Linked DNA regions of Homo sapiens. The protein of the gene in region 6 purifies or fractionates together with the protein of the main gene of each other region. This does not show direct contact. Each region holds a gene or a part of one and is shown on either strand. Other genes may lie near its edges. The genes, in order: SKP2, CLIC4, CNOT6, NLRP2, NLRP3, SUGT1 and RNF41.

What was found.
Region 1: the proteins of SUGT1 (region 6) and SKP2 purify together in Homo sapiens (affinity purification with mass spectrometry; 3 studies listed by BioGRID and IntAct, with this or other methods). This does not show direct contact.
Region 2: the proteins of SUGT1 (region 6) and CLIC4 fractionate together in Homo sapiens (co-fractionation; one large-scale study listed by BioGRID). This does not show direct contact.
Region 3: the proteins of SUGT1 (region 6) and CNOT6 purify together in Homo sapiens (affinity purification with mass spectrometry; one large-scale study listed by BioGRID and IntAct). This does not show direct contact.
Region 4: the proteins of SUGT1 (region 6) and NLRP2 purify together in Homo sapiens (affinity purification with western blotting; 2 studies listed by BioGRID and IntAct, with this or other methods). This does not show direct contact.
Region 5: the proteins of SUGT1 (region 6) and NLRP3 purify together in Homo sapiens (affinity purification with western blotting; one study listed by BioGRID). This does not show direct contact.
Region 7: the proteins of SUGT1 (region 6) and RNF41 purify together in Homo sapiens (affinity purification with mass spectrometry; 3 studies listed by BioGRID and IntAct, with this or other methods). This does not show direct contact.

Annotation. Positions count from the first base shown.
Region 1 is NC_000005.10:36,165,611-36,169,110, reverse strand, and holds part of SKP2 (S-phase kinase-associated protein 2), read right to left. Parts: intron 2,593-3,500; coding exon 2,449-2,592; intron 799-2,448; coding exon 664-798; intron 1-663. UniProt on the Homo sapiens protein: Substrate recognition component of a SCF (SKP1-CUL1-F-box protein) E3 ubiquitin-protein ligase complex which mediates the ubiquitination and subsequent proteasomal degradation of target proteins involved in cell cycle progression, signal transduction and transcription.
Region 2 is NC_000001.11:24,751,947-24,755,446, reverse strand, and holds part of CLIC4 (chloride intracellular channel protein 4), read right to left. Parts: intron 1-3,500. UniProt on the Homo sapiens protein: In the soluble state, catalyzes glutaredoxin-like thiol disulfide exchange reactions with reduced glutathione as electron donor. Can insert into membranes and form voltage-dependent multi-ion conductive channels.
Region 3 is NC_000005.10:180,570,879-180,574,378, forward strand, and holds part of CNOT6 (CCR4-NOT transcription complex subunit 6), read left to right. Parts: intron 1-351; coding exon 352-554; intron 555-3,109; coding exon 3,110-3,322; 3' UTR 3,323-3,500. UniProt on the Homo sapiens protein: Poly(A) nuclease with 3'-5' RNase activity.
Region 4 is NC_000019.10:54,986,874-54,990,373, reverse strand, and holds part of NLRP2 (NACHT, LRR and PYD domains-containing protein 2), read right to left. Parts: intron 353-3,500; coding exon 182-352; exon of another isoform or gene 1-181. UniProt on the Homo sapiens protein: Suppresses TNF- and CD40-induced NFKB1 activity at the level of the IKK complex, by inhibiting NFKBIA degradation induced by TNF. When associated with PYCARD, activates CASP1, leading to the secretion of mature pro-inflammatory cytokine IL1B.
Region 5 is NC_000001.11:247,443,673-247,447,172, reverse strand, and holds part of NLRP3 (NACHT, LRR and PYD domains-containing protein 3), read right to left. Parts: intron 3,202-3,500; coding exon 3,031-3,201; intron 2,523-3,030; coding exon 2,352-2,522; intron 1-2,351. UniProt on the Homo sapiens protein: Sensor component of the NLRP3 inflammasome, which mediates inflammasome activation in response to defects in membrane integrity, leading to secretion of inflammatory cytokines IL1B and IL18 and pyroptosis.
Region 6 is NC_000013.11:52,676,836-52,680,335, reverse strand, and holds part of SUGT1 (protein SGT1 homolog), read right to left. Parts: intron 363-3,500; coding exon 181-362; intron 1-180. UniProt on the Homo sapiens protein: May play a role in ubiquitination and subsequent proteasomal degradation of target proteins.
Region 7 is NC_000012.12:56,201,679-56,204,922, forward strand, and holds the end of RNF41 (E3 ubiquitin-protein ligase NRDP1), read right to left. Parts: 3' UTR 501-3,244; downstream 1-500. UniProt on the Homo sapiens protein: Acts as E3 ubiquitin-protein ligase and regulates the degradation of target proteins. Polyubiquitinates MYD88. Negatively regulates MYD88-dependent production of pro-inflammatory cytokines.

The DNA.
Region 1 (3,500 bases), on a different chromosome or scaffold from region 6:
TAGGGGCCCATTACAATCTGGTCCCTGACTCTCCTCACCTTGTCACTCTCCTCCCTTAGTCCTGTGCTCCAGCAACTTCCAACTACGTAAGAGTTTAGAACCACACAGGAAGTTTTACCTAGACTGGTTGCTTTGTCTTATTACCTAGAGATCTCCTACCTAGATATCTTCAATACTCAAGAGTCACTTCCTCTAACAAGGCGGCTCCTCGTGTGTTGCCACATATTCACTGAAACATTTAATAAACACACTGCATGGTAATTATCTGTCTTGCTCATAAATAGTTTACCTTCTTGCAAGAGAAAATAGACATGTCTTGCTCAATGTTTCCTCTTGCAAGAAGGTAAACTATAGCTTAACCAGCATTCACTAACAAGGTGGGAAAAGTTTTAGAGCATTCATTTTCTTCCCAAATAATACACATGCATTGTTCATCCTTGTACTTGTATCTCTAGAACCTAGCACAGGGCCTGGCATATAGTTAGCATTCAAGCTTTTGTTGCTTCAATGAGTCCTGAAAAGTTTTGCAGAAGCTAGAGCACTGCACTAGATATTTTCTGTATCCACCTGGATATGGCTAGAAGGGCACCCCAGTTATATACAGGGAAAAAAATTCATACACATAAAATCAACTGCCTTTGTGACACTCTGCCTGCCACTCACTTGACAATGGGATCCGAAAGCCGCAGGCCTTCCAGGCTTAGATTCTGCAACTTGGAACACTGAGACAGTATGCCGTGGAGGGTGGACACTTCTATAACTGAGTTCGATAGGTCCATGTGCTGTACACGAAAAGGGCTAAACACGGAGAGAAAAAAGGAGCTCCATAGGTGGCTCTCACGGGTACATCCAATTTCAAACCAGACCCCTCTTCTCCCCAAATGAGCAGCCAATCACAAACAAGACTCTAAATACATACTTCAAGCATTAACTATAGGGTCATAAAACATATTGCTACTAGTGTATTCCCATCTTCATTCATTTTAAAATGCAAGAGGATTTTTGCCAAGTACAGATGTTGCTGCCAATATAGTCCCACTTAGAAAATAACGAGTGGGCATCACAACAATGAGCTGGATGTGGGTGACAAGGAGATTAAGACCATAACGGCTCCTGGTTTCTGGCAGGGGTGAGTGGGTGAGCAGCAATAGAACAGGGAAGGTAGCGGAAGAGAAAGTTTTAAAGGGAGACCAGGCTGGGCGCAGTGGCTCACGCCTGTAATCACAACACTTTGAAAGGCTGAGTCCAGTGGATCACGATGTCAGGATATCAAGACCAGCCTGGCCAGCATGGTGAAACCCAGTCTCTACTAAAAATACAAAAAATTAGTTGGGCGTGGTGGCGCACACCTGTAGTCCCCAGGTGCTCGAGAGGCTGAGGCAGAATTGCTTGAACCTGGCAGGCAGAGGTTGCAATGAGCCGAGATCACGCCACTGCACTCCAGCCTGGGTGACACAGCAAGACTCCGTCTCAAAAAACAAAAACAATAAAAAAAAAGGGAGGCCAAATTTGAGTTATGCTAATATTGAAGTCCTTGTAAGAAATTCAGGTACAGACGTTTTTAGGTAATTAGAAATTTGGGAATTTGAAAGGGAGGGCCAAGCTATAGATGAGGAACTGAGAGTCCTGGGCATAAATGTGGGTGTAGAGGACACAGCTTGTCCAGGGACAGCATTTGGATTTGAAAAAGGTGGCAGCCAGGAACCGACCCTGGAGTGAACAGAGGAAATCACATATGTGAAGGAGACTGAGAAGGAACAGCCACAGGAGGAACAGGATAAAAAGCAGTGGGAGAGGCGGTCCTGACTACGGAAAGAAGGGAAAAAGTACTGGAGTCAGGAGACATGTTTTATCTTTAGCTTTGTTGTCTTCAGCTTGTTTTTCTGTTCAGTACCTAGTTATTCTACTATGTGATAGCAGTAACCTCAGTATTGCAAAATTATCAGAACAGAAAATTCTTTTTCAAAATATTCTACAAAACAAACAAAAAGAGGGCATTTTTTTCAGGTTCCAAATTTCTCCAAGACAAAAATCATAAACCCCAAGCTACAAACATGAAAAGACTCCTCACTTTTTTTTATTTATCAGAAATGGGCATTGGGGAAGTAACTGGGCACCCTTGCATCTGCCAGTGAGTGCTTTACTTGTGCCTGCCTTGTGGGACTCACAGTCCCCCTATCAGCTGAGGACTTGAGAAGACAAATGTGCCTCTTTCACCCTGGGAAGAGACTAACAGTAAACTTGAGTGAAATGGGAACAGTGTCATTGAAATCTATGCTAGGTTTTAGCACAAAGGCCCCATAGCAAAGTATGGAATTAACATCCCACACTGCACAGATAACCTACCATAGGCTTTAAGGCTGAAGAAAGAAAAAAAAAAAAAAAGCTTTGATCTGTTTCTACCTCGAAATTTAGAAATAGTCTTTTCCAGGGATTTTTCATCTTTACCTGAAATGTTCAGCCAATGGTTGGTCCATAAATGATCGTGGGCAGCGGAAGGCAATCACCCCTTGAGACAGCAACCGACCAGTCACATCCGGGTGCAGATTTTTACCTGTGAGGTCTAAGGTCTGCCATAGAGACTCATCAGACCTATAAAAGAGGAGATACTTAATTTGGCCAGTCGGTCACACTAAATGCTGGAAGCCCTCAACAACATTACTAACAGGTAGGACACTGCTGCTAAATCTCCTTGAAGCATATTCTAAAAGAACTTTTGTTTTTAAGTTGGCTATACAATTAGCTATGATATTTTTAAGGCACTAGAGAATTTTTCTTGATTTCACCAGGGATAAGCTTCCATCTTTCTCTTTCTATATACTTCCAATTTAGATGGTTCAATGTGAACATTAGCACTGCCGTGATCTAGAACCAGAGAATCATATTCCAGCATTCAAGTTGACAAATTTAAAAAATGATTGCTCAAATCAATTAATTATTATATTACTAGGCAAATAGGATCCTCTAAGAAGTTTTAAATCTATTTGACACTTTTGTCAAGCAATTATGATTACTGTAGCAACATGGAAAATTACTAAAGGAACGAAAGTTAGCATTATTTTATTATGAAATAAGGCTGTCATAGATATTCAATAGCAACAGTCATGGTTCAGCTGTGCCTTATAATATATTTGAAGCTTAAAACATACACGTGTATATGTATGTGTACATATGTGTGTGTATGAACTAATGTGAAATAAGGGAAAAATACAACGGATTATAGATGGTGTTTCTAAAACAAAAGGGATGTTCTAAAAACGTACTGAATAGCACAGTAAGAGGGTTTTAATATCCATAGTTTAATTCAATTTAAAAAAAGAAAATGTGAAATATAAGCACATGAAGGAACATTTTAAATGCTTAGGTGTACTAGAATTTTCTTTTTTAATAGTGCTTGAAATAAGTGGACCACTGGCCAGAGTTATGAAATAACTTCATCATAAAAAAATTGTCAGTGTGATTTGTGTGACAAATCTATCATTAAAAAGGTGGACTGTAGA
Region 2 (3,500 bases), on a different chromosome or scaffold from region 6:
TTTTTTTTTTGAGACAGAGTCTCACTGTCGCCCAGGCTGGAGTGCAGTGGTGTGATCTTAGCTCACTGCAACCTCCGCCTCCCGGGTTCAAGAGATTCTCCTGCCTCAGCCTCCTGAGTAGCTGGGATTACAGGCGTGCACCATCATGCCTAGCTAATTTTTGTATTTTTAGTAGAGATGGGGCCAGGAGTGGTAGCTCACGCCTGTAATCCCAGTACTTTGGGAGGCCGAGGCGGGCAGATCATGAGGTCAGGAGTTCAAGACAAGCCTGACCAACATGGTGAAACCCCATCTCTACTAAAAATACAAAAATTTAGTTTTTATAGAGATGAGGACTCACTATTTTGCCCAGCCTATAATTTTTTTTTTTTTTTTGAGACGGAGTCTTACTCTGTCGTCCAGGCTGGAGTGTAGTAACACAATCTCAGCTCACTGCAACCTCCGCCTCCCAGGTTAAAGCAATTCTCCTGCCTCAGCCTCCCGAGTAGCTGGGATTACAGGCGCCCACCACCACGCCCAGCTAATTTTTGTATTTTTAGTAGAGACAGGGATTCACCATGTTGGCCAGGCTGGCCTTGAACTCCTGACCTCAGGCGATCCACCCACCTCGGTCTCCCAAAGTGCTGGGATTACAGGTGTGAGCCATGGCAGTGGGCCTATCATTGTTATTTCTTATTTCTTATACCAATATCTGGAACTGACCACTGAGAGATAAGAGGCAAGTCTCGAAATAGACAATATAATTAAAAGCCATGAGAAAATTCACTAGCTGATGCCCTAAATTACATTTACATGTCTTAAATCATCCTTGGACAATAGGTAACCATGACCTAATGTCATTTTCCTTCAGAAAGTCCCTTTCCATTCTCTATGCAAGCGTCTAAAACAGGCAAACCCATCCTAGCTTACTCCTCTACTTGACCAAAATCTTAACTCATGCCTTAATCACACTTCCCATCCTGCCTAACACATTTTCCTTTTATGGACTCACAATTCCCTACTCAGGGGACATCAGAACACGGAGGCTCCACAGCTCTAACGAAACAGGAAGCGGAAAAGGATGGCTCACCATCCTTACTTACTGGCTTCTAGGCACCTCTGCAGGCATCTTCCCAAACCAACTGTGACATTTCCTGACAGCCAGGTTCTTCTCCCAATTGCCTCTTTCCTATCATTATTCATACTCTGTTAAGCTTTTCGTGTGCTCAGTCTCCTAGGCTCAAAGCCTCCTGCCTCTTCCCCATTCTAGGCTCCTTTCTCACAGGTTTTTACATTAAACCAAAATCATCAAATTTGGCCTTTGCCAAAAGTAGCATTATTAGGTCTTCAGGAACAGCTCAGGCAAAAAGTTAAAATAATAGGTTTTCATTAACTTCATACTTTACATTCATTTCTGTCTCCTGAATTTTCCCCCCGGAAACCTCAAATGAATGGCAAATCAATTAGATTCAAGGTAATATTGTCTGAATATTGAGTTAGCTTTTGTTAATTACCAGAACAGTTTTCAGCATCATTTCCTATAGAAAATTTATTTCATTTTTTTCTGTTAGAAAAAACAAAGACGGGGGGAAGTTTGAAGCCTGTCCTTGAAACAATATAAAGAATTCCCACTTTAAACTGTCAAAACAGTCCATCTGTACAATCCATTTGCACCTTCCCAAGTGCCACTGAAAAGTTATTAAACAGACAGCAATCCAAAAACACAGGAAAGTGTGGGGAGAATGAAAAAAGTTAGGAAAATGTATACATTAACAAAAACCCAAGTTAGGTTTTAAAAGTCTCATCCTCAACTTTTAAATAACTTGTCTCCCTGGCACTATAGATCTGAATCACTCCTGGTTCCTTCTTAGGTATCAATCTACCAATTGTTTCCTGCATAAGGAGTTTCCACATAATGTCAAAACTCACATTCCCATTCTTGGCTATTCCGAACCCACCTATTCACCTCCTTTTTCAAGGTCAAGTTTAAGCCTCCTTCCATCTTTCCCCATGTCTCCTAGCCCTACTTAATGTGAGCCCCACTTGACTCTTTAAGCATGGACCATCTTGTATTGTTTTCTTTCCAATAAAATTTGTAAACCTAAAGAAATTAACTGTTTAATAATTTCTTATATCTTCCATAGTACTTAACTCAGTATTAGCACTTAGTTCATGCCGGTACATTCTTTAAGTCATAGTTAATAATAACTAGAAGAGACCTTTGTGATCATCTAGCCCAAGCCCTTCTTTTATACCTTGCTTATATAAAGTATTCTTGACTCTAAGAATTCCACTATTTACTTCTTTTAGAACAGTGGTTCTTAGCCTTGGTTTAGGAATTTCCAGAAAAAAAGCCTCACATTAGAATTTTTTACTGTAATTTCAAGGATTTACAGAACTCCCTGATCCTACTAATAGAGCCCACATTTAAAAATAATATACTATTAGGCTGGGCGCGGTGGCTCACGCCTGTAATCCCAGCACTTCGGGAGGCCAAGGCGGGCAGATCATGGGGTCAGGAGATCGAGACCATCCTGACCAACACGGTGAAACCCCATCTCTACTAAAAATACAAAAATTAGCTGAGCATGGTGGCACGCGCCTGTAGTCCCAGCTACTCCAGAGGCTGAGGCAGAAGAATCGCTTGAACCCGGGAAGCAGAGGTTGCAGTGAGCCAAGATTGCACCACTGCATTCCAGTCTGGCGACAGAGCGAGACTCCGTCTCAAAAAAAAATAATAATAATAAACTATTATCGATGACAAAAGCAGGTGTTTACTATGTGTCAAGCACTCTTCCTAAAGCTTTACATAGGATGGTATACGGTTAGACCACACTTGCCAGCCTCTCTTGCAGATGAAGCTATGTGATTAAGTTCTCTCCAATAGAATGTGACCGGAAGTAACAGGTAGAACTTCTGAGCTGGGGCCCTTAAGATGTGCTTCCTCCATATTTTCCACCCCCCACTGGCAACAGACAGTACTTGTCACCCACCAACTTTGACAATTCAGAAGAGGACAATGCTCTGGGAGTTAGTGGACAAATAAGCTAGAAAGAGCCCGGGTCCCTTAATGACTCTGAGGAGGAAAGCCACCCTAACATCTAAGACATTCTCCTGGACTGAGGGGTGAGAAATAAACTTCCATCATATTTGAACCACTGTTTGTGGGGGGATAACTTATTACAGCAACTTAAACTACCCTAACTAATATGCACAGATTAACAGTTTTAATCCCCTCAGTAACCATATAAAATTGCTATTATTATTATCCTGATATTAGAAGTTAGGAAACTGAAGCACTGAGAGCTTAAAAACTTGCCTGACATACTAGAAGCCAGATTCAAGTCAAGCAGTGTGGCTCCAGAGTCCAAGCACATTAGGAACCTCTGCCAAATATCTCAAAAGAAACAGACTCTTATGTGTTATGCCACCCTGCACCAGATTAACTTTTTACAAACACCACCCCAATCCCAGCAGCTTGGTGACTACTTGCTGACAGTGATCATCCCAGTTCACAGTGG
Region 3 (3,500 bases), on a different chromosome or scaffold from region 6:
ATACTAAGATGCTGATCGTGGTGTTATCTTTAATTCTTTGTAAAAAGTGGAAACAACCTGCATTTTACAAAATAAGTAACCAGTAAATATTATCCACCAGCCCAATTGCATTGTGCAGCCATTAAAGAACGATAATTGGGAAGACACATGTTCATAAAGCAAATTATAAACTATTCAATACTCTGTGATGACAACTGTGTAAAAATAGATTTGGGCAAGTCCTGGCAAATGTAAAAGGAAACATTTTGGAACGTGGGAATATGTATAGTTTAAAACTTCTTACTATTGCATGATCTTTTAAAATTACTTTTTGTATATATTTGACAATAAAAAAATTTGTCTTCATTGTAGGTGTTGTAGAATATTTGAGCACAGGTGGAGTAGAAACAAATCACAAAGACTTTAAGGAGTTGAGGTATAATGAAAGTCTCACAAACTTCAGCTGTCATGGGAAGAATGGAACCACCAATGGAAGGATCACTCATGGTTTCAAGTTACAGAGTGCCTATGAGAGTGGCCTGATGCCTTACACGAATTACACATTTGATTTCAAGGTGTGTCTTGAGACTGATAAGCTTTTCAAACCTGTCTTTTACTGGCAGGTGTTCTGATACATCATTATGTCTTTAAAACTGTGGCTGTGTGTTCAGGCTGGAATGAAGCAGTCTTGAATTCATTGACAGCAATGTTCTTTGTTTTTTGTTTGAGACAAGGTCTCACTCTGTTACCCAGGCTGGAGTGCAGTGGCACAGTGATGGCTCACTGCAGCTTCAACCATGCCGGCTCAAACGATCCTCTCACCTCGGCCTCCCTAGTAGCTGGGACTACAGGCGCCTACTACCACGCCTGGCTAATTCTTGTATTTTTTGTAGAGATGGGGTCTCGCTATGCCCAGGCTGATCTTGAACTCCTGGCCTCAAATGATTCTTCCACCTCAGCCTCCCAGTGTGCTGGGATTACAGGCGTGAACCACTGTGCTCAGCCAGTAATATTCTTTTATTACTCTTTTTTAGAAGTCCATGTGATCAGTGTCACATCCTTACTTTGTAGATATTTATTCTAATAATTTTCAGGATAAGAAGTCACATGAAATAATCTGTAAAATTCCTAAGTTGACTTTTTCACCTTTTGGGGACAATTATGTTTCTTATATTCTCATTACTAATAGCTAGATATGCAGCACCATAATTATCTAGTTTGAGTGGCATTTGTGGTAAGATGTTCCTTCTCTTACATTTTAATTTAACTGAAAGTAAACTCTTGCATGCCAAAATGTGATTTATATTAGCTATTTTTAAGTGTTTCTAAGATACATCTTTTTTCTCCCCCTAGAGACAGTCTTGCTCTGTTGCCCAGGCTGGAGTGCAGTGGCGTGATCTCGGCTCACTGCAACCTCCACCTCCCAGGTTCAAGTGATTCTCATACCTCAGCCTCCCAAGTAGCTGGGATTACAGGCATGAGCCACCTCACCTGGCTAATTTTTGTATCTTTGGTAGAGACGGAGTTTCACCATGTTGGCCAGGCTGGTCTTGAATACCTGGCCTCAAGTGATCCACCCACCTTGGCCTCCCAAAGTGCTGGGATTACAGGCATGAGCCACCGCACCTGGTCAGACTTACACCATTTTTAACGTTAGTGATTGTTTAGGGCTGTCACTTTCTTGTGTTCAACTGTCCTTTTTCTAAAAAGAGATATGGTCTCACTCATTTTGCCCAGGCTGAAGTACAGTGATGTGATGATAACACACTGCAGCCTCAAACTCTCGGGCTCAGGCAACCCTCCTGCCTCAGCCTCCCCGCTAACTTGGACTACAGGTGTCCGCCGCCATACCCAGATCTTTTTTTTTTGGTAATTTTTTGTAAAGACAAGGTTTTGCTATATTGCCCAGCCCAATCTTGAACCCCTGGCCTCAAGCAATCCTCCTGCCTTAGCCTCCCAAAGTGCTGGGATTATAGACGGGAGCTACCACATCTGGCTCAGCTGCCCTTTTAAACTACTTTTTGCATTTCTGCTTTCTTAAAAATTTCTTAACTCCCAGCTTTCTATTTCTAAGCTGCTGGAAAAGTAATCATTTAGATTAGACTGTCAGAGTGTAAATAAGAGTTTAGATAGTATCTCAGGAGCCTTTGCACCTTAGAGCATAGAAAGTAAACCCCTGTTTATCCTCAGGTGCCCCTTCCTTTCAGGTTCTTCAGGAGACATTGAAGAGAAAGCATGGGTAGCAGCCACAGAGTGGGAATGCTTAGCGTTTTCTTTCTCTTTCTGTTGCTGATGCAGTGGCAGGAAGAAGACACTTGAATGTGCTTCAGTACATTTGGCCAAGAGCATGTAGAGGGGAGGACCAGAACCATCAGATGGGAACAGTTTAGTAGATGCCATGGCGGGGTGCTGCTGAGAGAAAAGGGGGTCAGGTAGAGACAGTCCTGCCCTCATGGAGCTGAGGTGTGATGAGAGAGACAAGTCTCAACCACACAAATGAGTAGATAATTACACCTTGAGATGGCCATTAGCAAGGGAAGTGAATCTGTGGTGAGAGGTAGGGTAGTAAGTAGGTAGGAGCAGGATTCAGGAAGGTCTTTGGAAAGCAGTTGAACCTGACATTGAAAGATTAAGAAGGAATTGACCTCATAACAAGTAGAAGAAAGTGTTCCAGGCAGAATGGTGGAGGGGGGCAGTGTGTGTGTGTGTGTGTGTGTGTGTGTGTGTGTGTGTGTGTGTGTGTGTCCGTCCGTCCGTCCGTCCTGGGGCAGGAAAGAACTTGGTACCTATAGGTCCCCTCACATCCTCACCCCTTTCTCATTCCAAAGGCTAGTGTGGAAGCAGGGAAAGTGGCACAAATTAGGCTAGGAAAGAGAAGCAGAGGCTGCATCCTGAAAGGCCTTTTAGGTCTTGTTAAAGATCCAGATAAGAAGAATGCTTCATTCTGCTAGATTTGACATTTTGCACGGGGACCATTTGGTGTATGTAGTACAGACCTCATCCTACAAGCTAGTAAGTTTCACTTGTTCTGTTCTGTTCACCAAACATGACATAAAGGCATGTCTTGAAAGCACTGAGGATTTTAGTGTTGTCTTATACGGTGCTTATCTTTTTTTCTGTTGTTTTTCAGGGTATAATAGACTACATTTTCTATTCTAAACCTCAGCTGAACACCTTAGGCATCCTGGGCCCTCTGGACCACCACTGGCTGGTTGAGAATAACATCAGTGGCTGCCCGCACCCCCTCATCCCCTCTGACCACTTCTCACTTTTTGCACAACTGGAGCTCTTACTGCCTTTCCTGCCCCAAGTCAACGGCATCCACCTTCCTGGCAGGAGGTAGTCAAGCACCTTCAGAGGACAGCCTTGATTCACTTGTAAACTTGTGAAAATCTGAACATAGGGGAGTGAGGTATGGCCACTGAGGATTTTTGCTTGCTTAAGAATGATTTGGACTTTCAATCTGATTATTTGATAAGGATATAGTATGAAAGCCAGGTGCTAGCAACAGACAAATTCTG
Region 4 (3,500 bases), on a different chromosome or scaffold from region 6:
TCCTATGAAGGAATAGGAATGAGAGAAGAACAAAATTCACAGGCCATCGGCCTGGATCTAAACATGGGAACAGGTGTTCACATCAGCGAGAGGTTCCATACAGCCAAGTCAGGCATGACCATTGCTCGTCTGTGGCCCCAGATCGAAAGCACAGCTGCTCTGTAAGAGAGGAGAGACTTACGACAACCTCTGCAGAAAGCACTTGGGGTGTCTCAAAGTTGTGTACAGCAACTTAGCACCCTCATCCAGAAGCTCATTGTCGGAGAGGTTTACGCACGTCAGGGACTGGTTGACTTCAAGGGCCAAGGAGAGATCAGCCCACTGCTGAGTGGTAGCGGAACAAGACACCAACCTGTGGGAGAAATAGGACCACGTCATTTTTTTTTTTTTTTTGAGACTGAGTCTCACTCTTGTTGCCCAGGTGGCGCAATCTCGGCTCACAGCAACCTCCGCCTCCTGGGTTCAAGTGATTCTCCTGCCTCAGCCTCCCGAGTAGCTGGGACTGCAGGCATGCACCATGCACCAACATGCCCAGCTAATTTTGTATTTTCAGTAGAGGTGGGGGTCTCTCCATGTTGGTCAGGCTGGTCTCAAACTCCCAATCTCAGGTGATCTGCCCACCTCGGCCTCCCAGAGTGCTGGGATGACAGGCGTGAGCCACCGCGCCCGGCAGAACAAGTCATTCTTGAGAATCTAACCGTGGAATCGTCTTTGGTTTACATCTCACTGGTTGTGTTATACCCCGACTTGAATTATCTGGAGCAGCAGTTGTCAAAGGGTGGTCAGACCAGTGGCACCAACATCGCCCAGGAATCAGCTGGAAATACAGAACTTAGTCAATCTGACTCTAATGTTGGATGCAGACTCCGCTAACCTATGTTTCATTGTTTGGTTTTTTGAAAGGGAGTTATTTATGCTCTGTCGCCCTGGCTGGAGTGTAGTGGCGCGATCTCAGCTCACAGCAACCTCTGCCTCCCAGATTCAAGAGATTCTCCCGCCTCAGCCTCCTGAGTAGCTGGGATTACAGGCAAATGCCATCTTGCCTGGCTAATTTTTGTATTTTTTAGTAGAGATGGGGTTTTACCATGTTGGCCAGGCTGGTCTCAAACTCCTAACTTTGGCCGGGGCAATGGCTCATGCCTGTAATCCCAGCACTTTGGGAGGCCGAGGTGGGCAGATCAGGAGGTCAGGAGTTTGAGACCATCCTGGCCAACATGGTGAAACCCCGGCTCTACTAAACATACAAAAGTTAGATGGGCGTGGCGACACGTGCCTGTAGTCCCAGCTACTCAGGAGGCTGAGGCAAGAGAATCACTTGAACCCAGGAGGCGGAGGTTGCAGTAAGCCGAGATCACTCCACTGCACTCTAGCCTGGGCGACAGAGCAAGACTCCGTCTCAAAACAAAAAACTCCTGACTTCAAGCGATACACCAGCCTAGGCCTCCCAAAGTACTGGGATTACAGGCAGGAGCCACCATACCCAGCCCACTAACCTATGTTTCAAGGTGCCCTGTTCATCCGGAAAATGTGTTAGAATAAATTCATAAGAAATGAGTGGCTGGGCACAGTGGCTCATGCCTGTAATCCCAGGACTTTGGCAGGCCAAGGCAGGTGGATCATGAGGCCAGGAGTTTAAGACCAGCCGGAACAACATGATGAAACCCCATTTCTCCTAAAAATACAAGAATTAGCTGGGCGTGGTGGCACATGGCTGTAATCCCAGCATTTTGGAAGATGGATGTCACTTGAGGTCAGGAGTTCGAGACCAGCCCAGCCAACACGGTGAAACCCCGGCTCTACTAAATATACCAAAAATTAGCTGGGTGTGGTGGATTGCCCGAGGTCAGGAGTTTGAGACCACCCTGGCCACCAGCATGGCGTAACCCTGTCTCTACTAGAAATACAAAATACTAGAAATACAAAAATACAGGTGGGTGCCTGTAATCCCAGCTACTTGGGAGGTTGACGGAGAAGAATCACTTGAACCCGGGAGGCAGAGGTTGCAGTGAACCAAGATTGTGGCACTGCACTCCAGCCTAGGAGACAGAGCAAGACTATATCTTGAGAAAAAAAGAAAGAAATTAGTGACCCAAATCTTTAATTCACCCAATATTCCCCCTCACCCTGCATCCCATTATTCTCAGGCAAAAAGAAAAGAGGGTAATTGCAACGGTTAGTAATGATAGCAGCCACTATTGAATGCATGGGCTTGGTTTCATTCAACCTTCCAATACCTGTAAGATGTACAGCATCCTATTCAACTAAGATCCCATTAAGCAGCCTAAGATTGTATCAGTAGAGCCAGAGCAATCAATTTTTTTTCTGTCCTCGAGATGGAGTTTTGCTCTGTTGCCCAGGCTGGAGTGCAATGGCGTGATCTTGGCTCACTGCTACCTCTGCCTCCTAGGTTCAAGCAATTCTCTTGCATCAGCCTCCATGAGTAGCTGGGATTACAGGCACGCGCCACCATGCCCAGCTAATGTTTTTGTATTTTTAGTAGACGTGGGGTTTCACCATGTTGGCCAGGCTGGTCTTGAACTCCTGACCTTGTGATCCACCTGCCTTGGCCTCCCAAAGTGCTGGGATTACAGGCATGAGCTACCGCACCCAGCCAAGATTTTTTTTTTTTTTTTTGAGACAGTCTCACACTGTTGCCCAGACTGGAGTGCGGTGGTGTGATCTCAGCTCACTGCAACCTCCGCCTCTCAGGTTCAAATGATGCTCCTGCCTCAGCCTCCTGAGTAGCTGGGACTACAGGCGTGCGCCAACATGCCCAGCTAATTTTTGTATTATTAGTAGAGACAGAGTTTCACCATGTTGACCAGGCCGGTCTTGAACTCCTGACCTCAAGTGATCCACCCACCTCGGCCTCCCAGGCGTGAGCCACTGCGCCTGGCCCAGGGCAATAATTTGAGGCCAATGACCACCTACTACACCAGTGTGGCCAAGTGAGGCTTCATGGAACCCCATGATGCATGTAGGTTCTCATCGCCTGGGCAGCCACTGGACAGCTTCCCAAGGGGAGAGCTCTCAAACCAGAGGACTAACAGAAAAGGGGCAACTTGATGTTCCTGAAGGGTTCTTGCTTGAAAAATGTCAATAGCTGGTATTCTGAATCATCATACAGGAGAAGCATGAACCATGAGTGAATGATCTCTGATAGAAGATAAAGATTCTGGGCTGGGCACGGTGGCTCATGCCTCACTTTGGGAGGCCGACGGCGGGGTGGGGTGGGGGTGGGGGGGTAGATCACCTGAGGTCATGAGTTCGAGACCAGCCTGGCCAATGTGGTAAAACTCCATCTCTACTAATAATACAAAAATTAACCAGGTGTGGTGGTGTGCACCTGTAATCCCAGCTACTCAGGAGGCTGAGGCAGGAGAATCACTTGAACCTGGGAGGTGGAGGCTGCAGTGACCTGAGATCATACCAACGCACTCCAGCCTGGGTGACAGAGCGAGACTCCATCTCAAAAAGAAAAAAGAAAAAGAAAAAACCAA
Region 5 (3,500 bases), on a different chromosome or scaffold from region 6:
CCTCCAGTATTGTGAGATAATAAATCTGTGTTTGAGTCACACAGTCTAAAGCAGCTTGTTATCGCAGCCTGAGAAAACGGGTTGATTGCATTCATGGATTCTTCAATCTATTTTGAGCCTGTCCCTCAGCCTGGGTCCAGAATGTCCCTCAGGGCTAGGTCAGTGATGCTACATGTAGCAGTGTCCCCAGCTTTGACCTGACCAATCCTTTGTTTGTTCCCCCATCTCTCTTAGCTCTGGGAATATTGGCTTGTCCTGCAGCAAATGTGCTCCATTATGTTGGCACAAGGATGCAAGGCTGATTCAAACTTGTATTTATTCAAACCTGCATTCCAACAAGTTCTCAGCCTTGAGATCATTAATATGGACAGAAGTCCCTGGACTAATGGAATTTATATTTTGGGAGCAGAGATAGATAATAAATAAACAAGAAAATGACATAGCACATAAGATGTGCTACACTGCAGAGGAGAATGAGAAGAGAAGAAAAAGTGCTTCTATTTTCAGTAGAATAGTCAAAGACAGCCTCGCAGAGAAGACCTTTAAGCAGAGAATTTAGGAAGGTACAGGGAATAATGCAGGTGGATACTGAAGGGGAGAGAGTTCTAGGCCAGAAGAAAAGCAAGTGCAAAAATCCAGAGATGACAGTGTTCTTGCAAAACAGCAAGGAGATCACTGTACTGGGGCAGAATAAGCAAGGGTTGGGAGAAGCGGAATCTTCGGAAGCAGGAGAGGCTGGATTATGTGGGGCATGGAAGCCACCATGAGTTTGTTGCTCTGATTATGAAAGTGATAAGAAGACGATGTTGACAAGAGTGATATGATGCGAGTTACGTTTTAGCTGAATCCCTTGTCTGCTAAAATCAGAATAACAGATGCAGGGTGACCTGTCAGAATGCCACCATGACAATCCAGACACCAGGTGATGGTGGCTTGAGCCAAGGAAGAAGCCGTGAAGCTGGCCTGAAGTGGTCAGGGAGTGGCCAAGCTGGGAAGGCAGAGCTCACAGGATGTGCTGACACATTGGACATGATTATAAGGAAAAAGAGACAGTGACGACAGAACCAGAAATGTTTTGGCCCGAGCAACTTGGAGGAAGTGACCATCGACTGAAATGGGGAAGAATCAGGTTTCGGGTAGAAGAGAGTAGCAAGGGTGTGGATCTAGATGTGACGTTTGAGAGGTTTATTAAACCTTCAAGAAGAAAGATCAGCCAAGCACGGAGACACAGAATTTATGGACATATAATCTGGAGGCCACAGCACACATATCATGAAGCCAGAAGACCAGATAATTTAAATGAGGGAGAAAGTGTAGGGAAGAAAAATTAGCCCAGCGACTAAGCTCTGAGGATTCAACACATAAGGGTCAGGATGATGAAGAAGAGGCCAGAAAGGAGACTGAGTAGAAGGATCTGATGAAATAGGAGAAAACCCAGGAGAGCATGTTGGCCTTAAAGCCAAGCAGTGAAAACGTCTTCAGGGAAAAGTGCAATCATCACGGCTGACAGAACCGTGGGACTCGCCAGGAAGCTCTTGCTAGAGAGGAGACGACTACCTCAGTAGTATCACAGAGGTGGGCTGGCAATATCCTGACACACTGTCGAATTTCGTGTAATTTCCCATCTTGCTATTCCTGGAGCACTCTTTTCCCATTTAGAAATCCTCAGAAACCGCCAGGCACGGAGGCTCACACCTGTAATCCCAGCACTTGGGGAGGCCGAGGCAGGCAGATCACGAGGTCAGGAGATGGAGACCATCCTGGCTAACACAGTGAAACCCCAACTCTACTAAAAATACAAAAAATTAGCCGGGTGTGGTGGCAGGCGCCTGTGGTCCCAGCTACTTGGGAGGCCGAGGCAGGAGAATGGCGTGAACCCGGGAGGCGGAGCTTGCAGTGAGCCGAGATCATGCCACTGCACTCCAGCCTGGGCGACAGAGCAAGACTCTGTCTCAAGGAAAAAAAAAATAAATCCTCAGAAACAAAACAACAAGATCCCCACTATGTAAAGACCCTTCCAATTTGGATGACCCATAGACGAGTTCTACGAAGTTCGGTTCCTTGTGTAGAACAGAATCCTCCTTGGCCATGATCGCATGAGGGCTTGTGTTTCTTTGGGGAATGTGGGTGAAATCCAGCTTAGCCTTGGTGATTCTAACCATCTCAGTGAAGTGGAATGTGTAGTTTAACCCCATATTCTCTATTTTAAAATATCCACCACAACTGACCCAGGCCCAACCTAATCTTGAGTGGCTGCAAATGAAGCGAGAGCCATCCTGGATTTTGATAACAGTCAACGTTTCCTGAGAACTCAGAGTCCCACCACGGGCATCTCTGCAGAGCACACTCACCCCAGGTTCTGCAGGAGGCAGCTCTGCTGTTTCAGCACTTCACAGAACATCATGACCCCCAGGTCGCCCAGGTCATTGTTGCCCAGGCTCAGCTTTCGCAGGCTCTGGCTGGAGGTCAGAAGTGTGGAAAGATCCCAGCAGCAGTGTGACGTGAGGTTGCAGTTGTCTAATCTGCAAAAAGGGGGTGATTTAAAGAAAATGTCCCCTTAACCATCCCCCTAGCTCCCCAAGATTTTAGCATCTTAGCCTGTCTTGTTTCAGGTGGAAAAAAAAAAAGCACAGGAGCACAGGACTAACTAGCTTCAAGCAGCCTTGTATGCTGGTAATTATTCTTCTCTCTCTTTTTCAAATCCACTGCATTGCACAGATCAAATTAGTAACAGTGGTTTGTTCATTGATTTACCAAATTCTGTGCCTTTCCCTACATTTCCATAAAATGTAAGTGTCATACTGCCCTCCTTGTTTTGTGGTACAGAAAACTGTGATGGTAAGGACTCAAGTTCCTACATCTATATCATCTGGAAGGACTCCTCCCAGTCCCATGATCCTGTAACAAGGCAAACACTAAGAAGACACCTCACTTCTAAGATACAGATTATCTTGTGGCCACTCTGCCTAAACGTCCCTCCACCCTTGGCCACCATGTGTTCTCATTGCTGTAATAAACCAAAGGACTTACTCCAACACCTGAAGCTTGCAGTCGGGGTGCAAGAGTCCCTCACAGAGTAGTTTGATCCCCTTGTCTCCGAGAGTGTTGCCTCGCAGGTAAAGGTGCGTGAGATTCTGATTAGTGCTGAGTACCGAGGACAAAGCTGAACAACAGACTGACGTAAGGCCAGAATTCACCAACCTGTAGAAGGACAGGGAGAAGAGTCCTCAGTACCCAGCTGTTCCCCAACATTGTGCAGCTGCTTTGACTCAGTGCCTCGTCCTCTCTCAGCAGCTGCAGCCTTCAGCTCAGAGAGCAGGAGCCAGCATCTCAGATATGATCTGGGGAGAGCAAGACCTGCTGTCTCTGGCTGTCACAGGAGACACAAATGATGTCTCAGCAGATGCTTTGCTGTATGAGTCCGACAGAAAGAGCCAAGGCAAACTGAGCCAGTTACCCCATACTCCTCCTCCTCCTCACACAGCTTTCCTCCGGCCAGG
Region 6 (3,500 bases):
CCATAAGTTTTCAACTTCCTCAAAAATTACTCTTAGAGCAAAAAGAAACGTTCAGACAGACCTTATTCAAAAAGTTCTCCCAGCTATAGTACACGCAATTTGGTCTCACATTACCAATTTTCTCGTTTAAAATATGTAAAATTTGCTCCCATATATATTTCTTTAAGTTTATATTCTTACAAAGGATTTGTTCATGGCACGTTTCACTTCATCAGAACCATCTGAATAGATCTGCTGAAATAATCTGTTTAAAGCTGCATCTCCCTCCAACTTTTCATTCTTTTCTTCTTCTTTGATCTCACCAACCAATTTATCCCAATTTCTTGTATAAGGAGATGATGATGGATATAGGTTCTTTACATCTATGAAGTAAAAAAAGGCAGAAGTAATTAATCAACATGTTTCAATTATGTCGAGAATATGTAAACTTTGTGACCATGTATATGGAACATCTTAGCAAACAGTTTAGGTTACTGAATTTCAGGTATGCAATAAGTGTCTTTCTGGTATATAGGTCAATAACAAAATTCACATTTCTAAAAACTGAGTCAGTTACCATAATGTAAAATCTGGGGATTTCTTTTGAGCAAAATAACTCAATAAAGTGTAAACTTTTGATATGCTATACAAAATTAGATTAAAAGCAGATTCTTCATGTTGATAACAGAAACTAGATGAAAAGTATACAGAACTTTTATGTTTTCAGAAAAGTTGCAGAGACAGTACGAACAATTCTAAAAATGAAATTTTTTAAAGGATGCCTAAGAAATCTTTTGTAACTAAGATTTTAATAAATGTTAAAAATGTGACTTTTTCTAAAGTACTTAGTATCTTTCAGAGTATAAATAGCCTGAAAATATAAATAATCATCCATGCCACTCCATACTCTCCCATCAAAAAAGTAAGATTATTTTAATAGGCAATAACAGTAAGTAATTTCTAAATGTTTAAAGTACTACACTTGATGATCTAAAGTTCAATGCCCACATCCCATACACCTAGCAAATAATAGTATTTGTAGGGCACACTGGAGTAAACAGAGCTGCTTGCAGCGAGAGAGGCTACTGGCCCAGGGGCTCGGGGTACTGCCAAGATTGCTCCAAAGACCAAAGGCATCAAGATCTTGGCACACAAATAATTAGAAAATAACTAGACAACCTAGTAGCTATAGGAGCAGCTCTGTTGACTATCCAATGAAAATATAATGACAGCCTCAAATGTGAGTCACATATATAATTTAAAACTTCCTAGTAACTACATTACTAAAAAGAATCAGGTGAAATGCAGTTTAATAATACATTTTATTTAACCTGATATATCAAATATAGTATCATATTGACTTGAAACCAACAGAGGCCGGGCATGGGGGCTCACACCTATAATCCCAGCACTTTGGGAGGCCAAGTAGGAGGATTGCTTGAGGCCAGAAGTGTGAGACCAGCCTGGGCAACATAGTGAGAGCCCATCTCTATGAAAAAAAAATAATAATAATTAGCTGGGCGTGGTGGCACATGCCTGCAGTACCAGCTACTCGGAAGGTTGGGGTAGAGGACTGCTTGAGTCCAGGAGGTTGAGGCTACACTGAGCCATGACAGTGCCACTGCATTCCAGCCTGGGTGACACAGCAAGACTCTCTCTTAAAAAAAAAAAAAAACCAACAAAAAAAATGAAGATATTTTATATTCTTTTTTTCATACTAACTCTTCAAACTGTAGCATATATTTCACATAGCACATCATCTCAATGCAGACTAGTCATATTTCAAGTGCTCAACAGGTAACATGTGGCTAGCAGCTACTGTGTTGGACAAAAGAGCTACAGTTTTCAAAAAACCCAATTCAAAATTTCCCCATCAGTATGTATTAGGACACATTAGTACTAATCTAAATGTTCCTCCCAATACTGCTCTCTACATCCCTTTTGTCAAAATAGCTGAGAAACTAACATCCACTGTTTTTCTACGCTTTCTCTTCACTTGTAAACCGACTTTCTCCCTGCCCATTCCTCCTCAAAACAAAACAACACACACAACACCAACACATAGTTTTTTTTCAGGGCCAAATATATTGTTTTGAAAATCCTATCCACCTTCCTTCTACTAGATATCCTTCTATCTTTGTACATTTTCACTAGTAGCCAGGTAAAACAAAAAATGCGTGCCATGGTAAGTTAAGAGCCTGGGAAATATGGATTTAATTAATCCTAATGCTGACTCCCAGGAAGGATGAGAACAGAGGTTTTAATCTCTATTTTGTAGATAAGCAAGCTGGGTCAGATAGGTTAAGTGACTTGCCCTTATCTACAGTCTCCAGCTTGCAATACACAGGAATCTGACAAGTATATTAATTTCTTACAAAAACAGGACAGGAAGAGTATCATCTTGAATATCTAAGGTGTTGAGTTTAGAAAAAACATGGTAACTGTAACACTAAAAAGCCTTGATCTTTAATCTCAGAAAAACTTTTAACACCTGGAGATGGCAGATGAACTACTGAGAGATGAGTAATCTAACCTCCCTGCTCATTCACTATAATATCAAATAACTACTAGATACTCATGTCGGCAAAGACTGTTTCCATTGTTAGAAAATGCAACAACAAGCAGTATGCAACAAGTAGACAACGGGTTAACAGAATAACTGGACCCAACTGAGAAGACCTAGATTTTAGTCCTAGACAATGAGAACTGAGGGATAATCTTGAGCTTAACTTTTCTGAGCCTGCAAAATGGGAGGAATACTAAGGGGCTGCCTGTTATGCAGGGCTGTTAGAATTAAGTAAGATACTACATTTAAAGTGATTATATATTTTTTAAAGCTTTCAGCTACATATAAACCTCAGCCTCAAAATCTATTGGAGTCAGTCCTAAAAGAAACACATACATCTTTCAAATAAAGTGTGAAGCAGATGCTTAAATACCTTAAATACCAACTAGATATACTTCAGTCCTTAAAAAGTATCTGTTGGTGTTAATACCCTGATTTTGAAAATTATACCACAGACTACTTAAGAGGTAATCATTGGACTAGTTAAGACACTATCAATGGGGGAAACTGGGTGAAAGCTATATGAGAATCTCTTATTTTTGAAATTTCTAAACATCCAAAATTATTTCTTAAGAAATAACTATACACACACACACAAACACACACACAAATGATCTGTTGAATAACTCAGTGTTTTCTAAAAGGTGCCACAAGGAAATGTGTTTTCTGTTACAGAAGAAAGCAGTCAAAATCAGAAAAAGCTGAGACACATGTTAGCTTGTTTCAGTCATTAAATCAGACCATTACTTCCAATAAAAAGAAATTTCCCTCCACTCATTAATGAAGCTATTGCTATAAAATATAATCTTAGGTTGTAGTTCTGAGTGTGCTGTGAATTTGTCCACTAGAAAAATTCTTACCTAGTTATTGCACATACTTAAAATTGACCTCAACACAAAGTTCTGTTTCTTACAGGGTTATATATACAATGAAGCCTGGTTTTCTACTCTTCTCC
Region 7 (3,244 bases), on a different chromosome or scaffold from region 6:
AAAAAAAAAAAAAAGACTTTTCTTGGGACAATTAGGGTAATGTAAACATGGGTTTGTAGTAGATTATTCATTATACATTGTTAATTGTAAACACTTGTTATTTAGGTAATGTCAAAAATATTTTTATTTTTCCAATGTATATACTGAAGTAAAAAATTAAGACAATGAAGCCAGGTGCAGTGGCTCACACTTGTAATCCCAGCACTTTGGGAGGCCAAGGCAGGTGGATTCCTTGAGCTCAGGAGTTTGAGACCAGCCTCAGCAACATGGTGAAACCCCATCTCTACAAAAAATACAAAAAATTAGCCCGGTGTGGTGGCGCATGCCTGTGGTCCCAGCTACCTAAGAGGCTGAGGTAGGAGGATCACTTGAGCCTGGGAGGTGGAGGTTGCAGTGAGCCAAAATTACGTCATGCACTCCAGCCTCAGCTACAGAGCCAGACCCTATCTAAAAAAAAAAAAAAAAAAAAAAAAAAAATTAAGACAGTGTATCAAAGTCACTGAAAGAGATGAAACAAAAAAAATTTTACTAGTATTAAAACAGATTAAGACAATTCCAGGTGCAGTAGCCCCAGCTACTCCAGAAGCTGAAGTGGGAAGACCACTAGAGCCCAGGAGTTTGAGGCTACAGTGAGCTATATGATGGTGCCACTGCACTCCAGTCTGGGTGACAGTGTTCTTTCTACTCCCTCCTTCCCCCAGTTCTCCTGACCTTAAAAGTTTAGAACAGGTTGGCAAATTTTTTTCTGTAAAAGACCAAGTATTTTAGGCTTTGTTCCAGCTACTTAACCCTGCTGTTGTAATGTGAAAGCAGCCACAGACAATATATAAACAAGTGGGCATAACTGTATTCCAATAAAGTTTTTTACAAAAGCAGGCAGTGGGGTTGTAACCTGTAGTTTGCTGACCTCTGACCTATAACAAGTAACACTTCCTGAAAAGCCTTTCCTGATACCCATCAGAATCAGGAGCTTTATCGTCCTTGGCTCACATATTACTAGTAAATCCACTTAGCACATTTATGATCCCTTATTATATATTCATCTCCATTAGGGACTAAGTTCTTTGCAGGTAGGTGCCATTTTGCTACATAAGCCTCCTCATGTTCACTCTAGTGAGTATCTCACAGGGCAGACATTCAATGAATATTTGTTTCTAAAAATCGTATCTTCTGTAAAAGGACAATATGACACCATTCATAACATTCACAAGAATGAGCAGCAAGTTCTAAAAGTAATTTTAAAGGAGTTTAAGGGGGGAAAAGCACTGCTAATGTCACTAGGATACATACATTGCCTCTTATGCTCTATACTGTGACATGCTTATCAGTATTTTATAAACATACCTTGTGTGCATAGAAGCGCAGACTCAGCACAGAAATGCCTTTTTTTTTTTTTTCAAGCCACTAGAGTATCAAGAGTACTATTAGGTTTACATCAGGTGCATGATAAATGCTCAAATTTAAAACAAACTTCTGGGAGGAGGAAAAGATATCCCTTTTTCTTTTCTTTTCTTTTTTTTTTTTGAGACAGGCTCTTGCTCTGTCACCAGGCTGGAGTGCAGTGGCATGATCTCAGCTCACTGCAACCTCCACCTCCCAGGTTCAAGCGATTCTTGTGCCTTAGCCTTCCAAGGAGCTGGGATCATAGTGGCGTCCCACCATGTCTGGCTATCCTTTTTCTTATGACAGGGAAAGGTAGCAGCAAATACTTATGAAGACTGGTTTTTTTTTTTTTTTTTTTGAGACGGAGTCTTGCTCTGTTGCCCAGGCTGGAGTGCAGTGGCGTGATCTCAGCTCACTGCAAGCTCCGCCTCCCAGGTTCACACCATTCTCCTGCCTCAGCCTCCTGAGTAGCTGGGAGGACAGGCGCCTGTCCGGCTAATTTATTTATATTTTTAGTAGAGACAGGGTTTCACCATGTTAGCCAGGATGGTCTCGATCTCCTGACGTTGTGATCCACCCACCTTGGCCTCCCAAAGTGCTGGGATTACAGACGTGAGCCACCGTGCCCGGCCTATGAAGACTTTTTTTTTTTTTTTTTTTTTTAGACGGAGCCTTGCTCTGTCGCCCAGGCTGGAATGCAGTGGCCCAATCTCTGCTCACTGCAAGCTCTGCCTCCCGGGTTCACGCCATTCTCCTGCCTCAGCCTCCTAAGTAGCTGGGACTACAGGTGCCTGCCACCACGCCCGGCTAATTTTTTGTATTTTTAGTAGAGACGGGGTTTCACTGTGTTAGCCAGGATGGTCTCGAACTCCTGACCTTGTGATCCACCCACCTCGGCCTCCCAAAGTGCTGGGATTACAGGCGTGAGCCACCGCGCCCGGCTATGAAGACTATTTTTATAAGTAAATAATTATGAAACCTCTGCAAGTACATTTCCCTCCTCACATTTACGTTCTTAGCTAGGAAACACTGGGAGGTAGAGACTTCTCTGCCTGCAAAGGAATTCTAGATTCTAAAGCAAAGTTGCTTGTGGGACAAAGGAAAAAGATATATACATATCTTCTGTAGAAATTATCCCAAAAACTCAGGACCACTCAGGGAAGACATGGAATTTAGGATAAAGGCAGACCCTGGGAAGCACACAGTTCAGATCACTAGAGAGCTTTGGCTGCTACAGAACAGGAGATAGGAGGGAAGAATGCAGGAGGGTACATGGGAAAGCAGCTGTGAAGTGCACACTACTCCCAGACATCCTCCTGAAAGAGAAGTTAGCACTAAGATAAGGGTAGGTAACAAAGTAAGGAAGAAAGGGAATTAAGGTGAGAGAAAGGCAAAAGCAGAGGGGAAACCTTCTCAAGAAAGGGAGTAATGCTGAAGAATTTAGAGAGTTGAGTAAAAGGTTTATTATTAGTGCAGTCAACACCATGGAACAGCACATACAACACAACCAGCAACCTGCAGAGACACTAGTGCAAAGGGTAGGGAAGCCTTTCACTGAGCTTCCTGGCTCCATCTGAGGGTAAGGACAGGACAGTATGAGCCTTGGTTAAGGCAGGTAGGGGAAAGGGGAGTGGAAGAAATGTAGTAACCAGAGTAAGTATAGCAGCGTTTTCAAATTCCTGAGCACAATGTCCCAGAGCTGGAACCCTACTCCCCTCAAGCTTTCCACCCCAATCCCAGTGGAGCCATGATCCAACTACCCAGACCTGCAGCAAGCTAGCCTGGAATAAAATTCTGAGAGGAAGCCATTACATGGTGGGGAGGAGCCTTTCTATCTCCAACCACACTCCCACCTCCATAT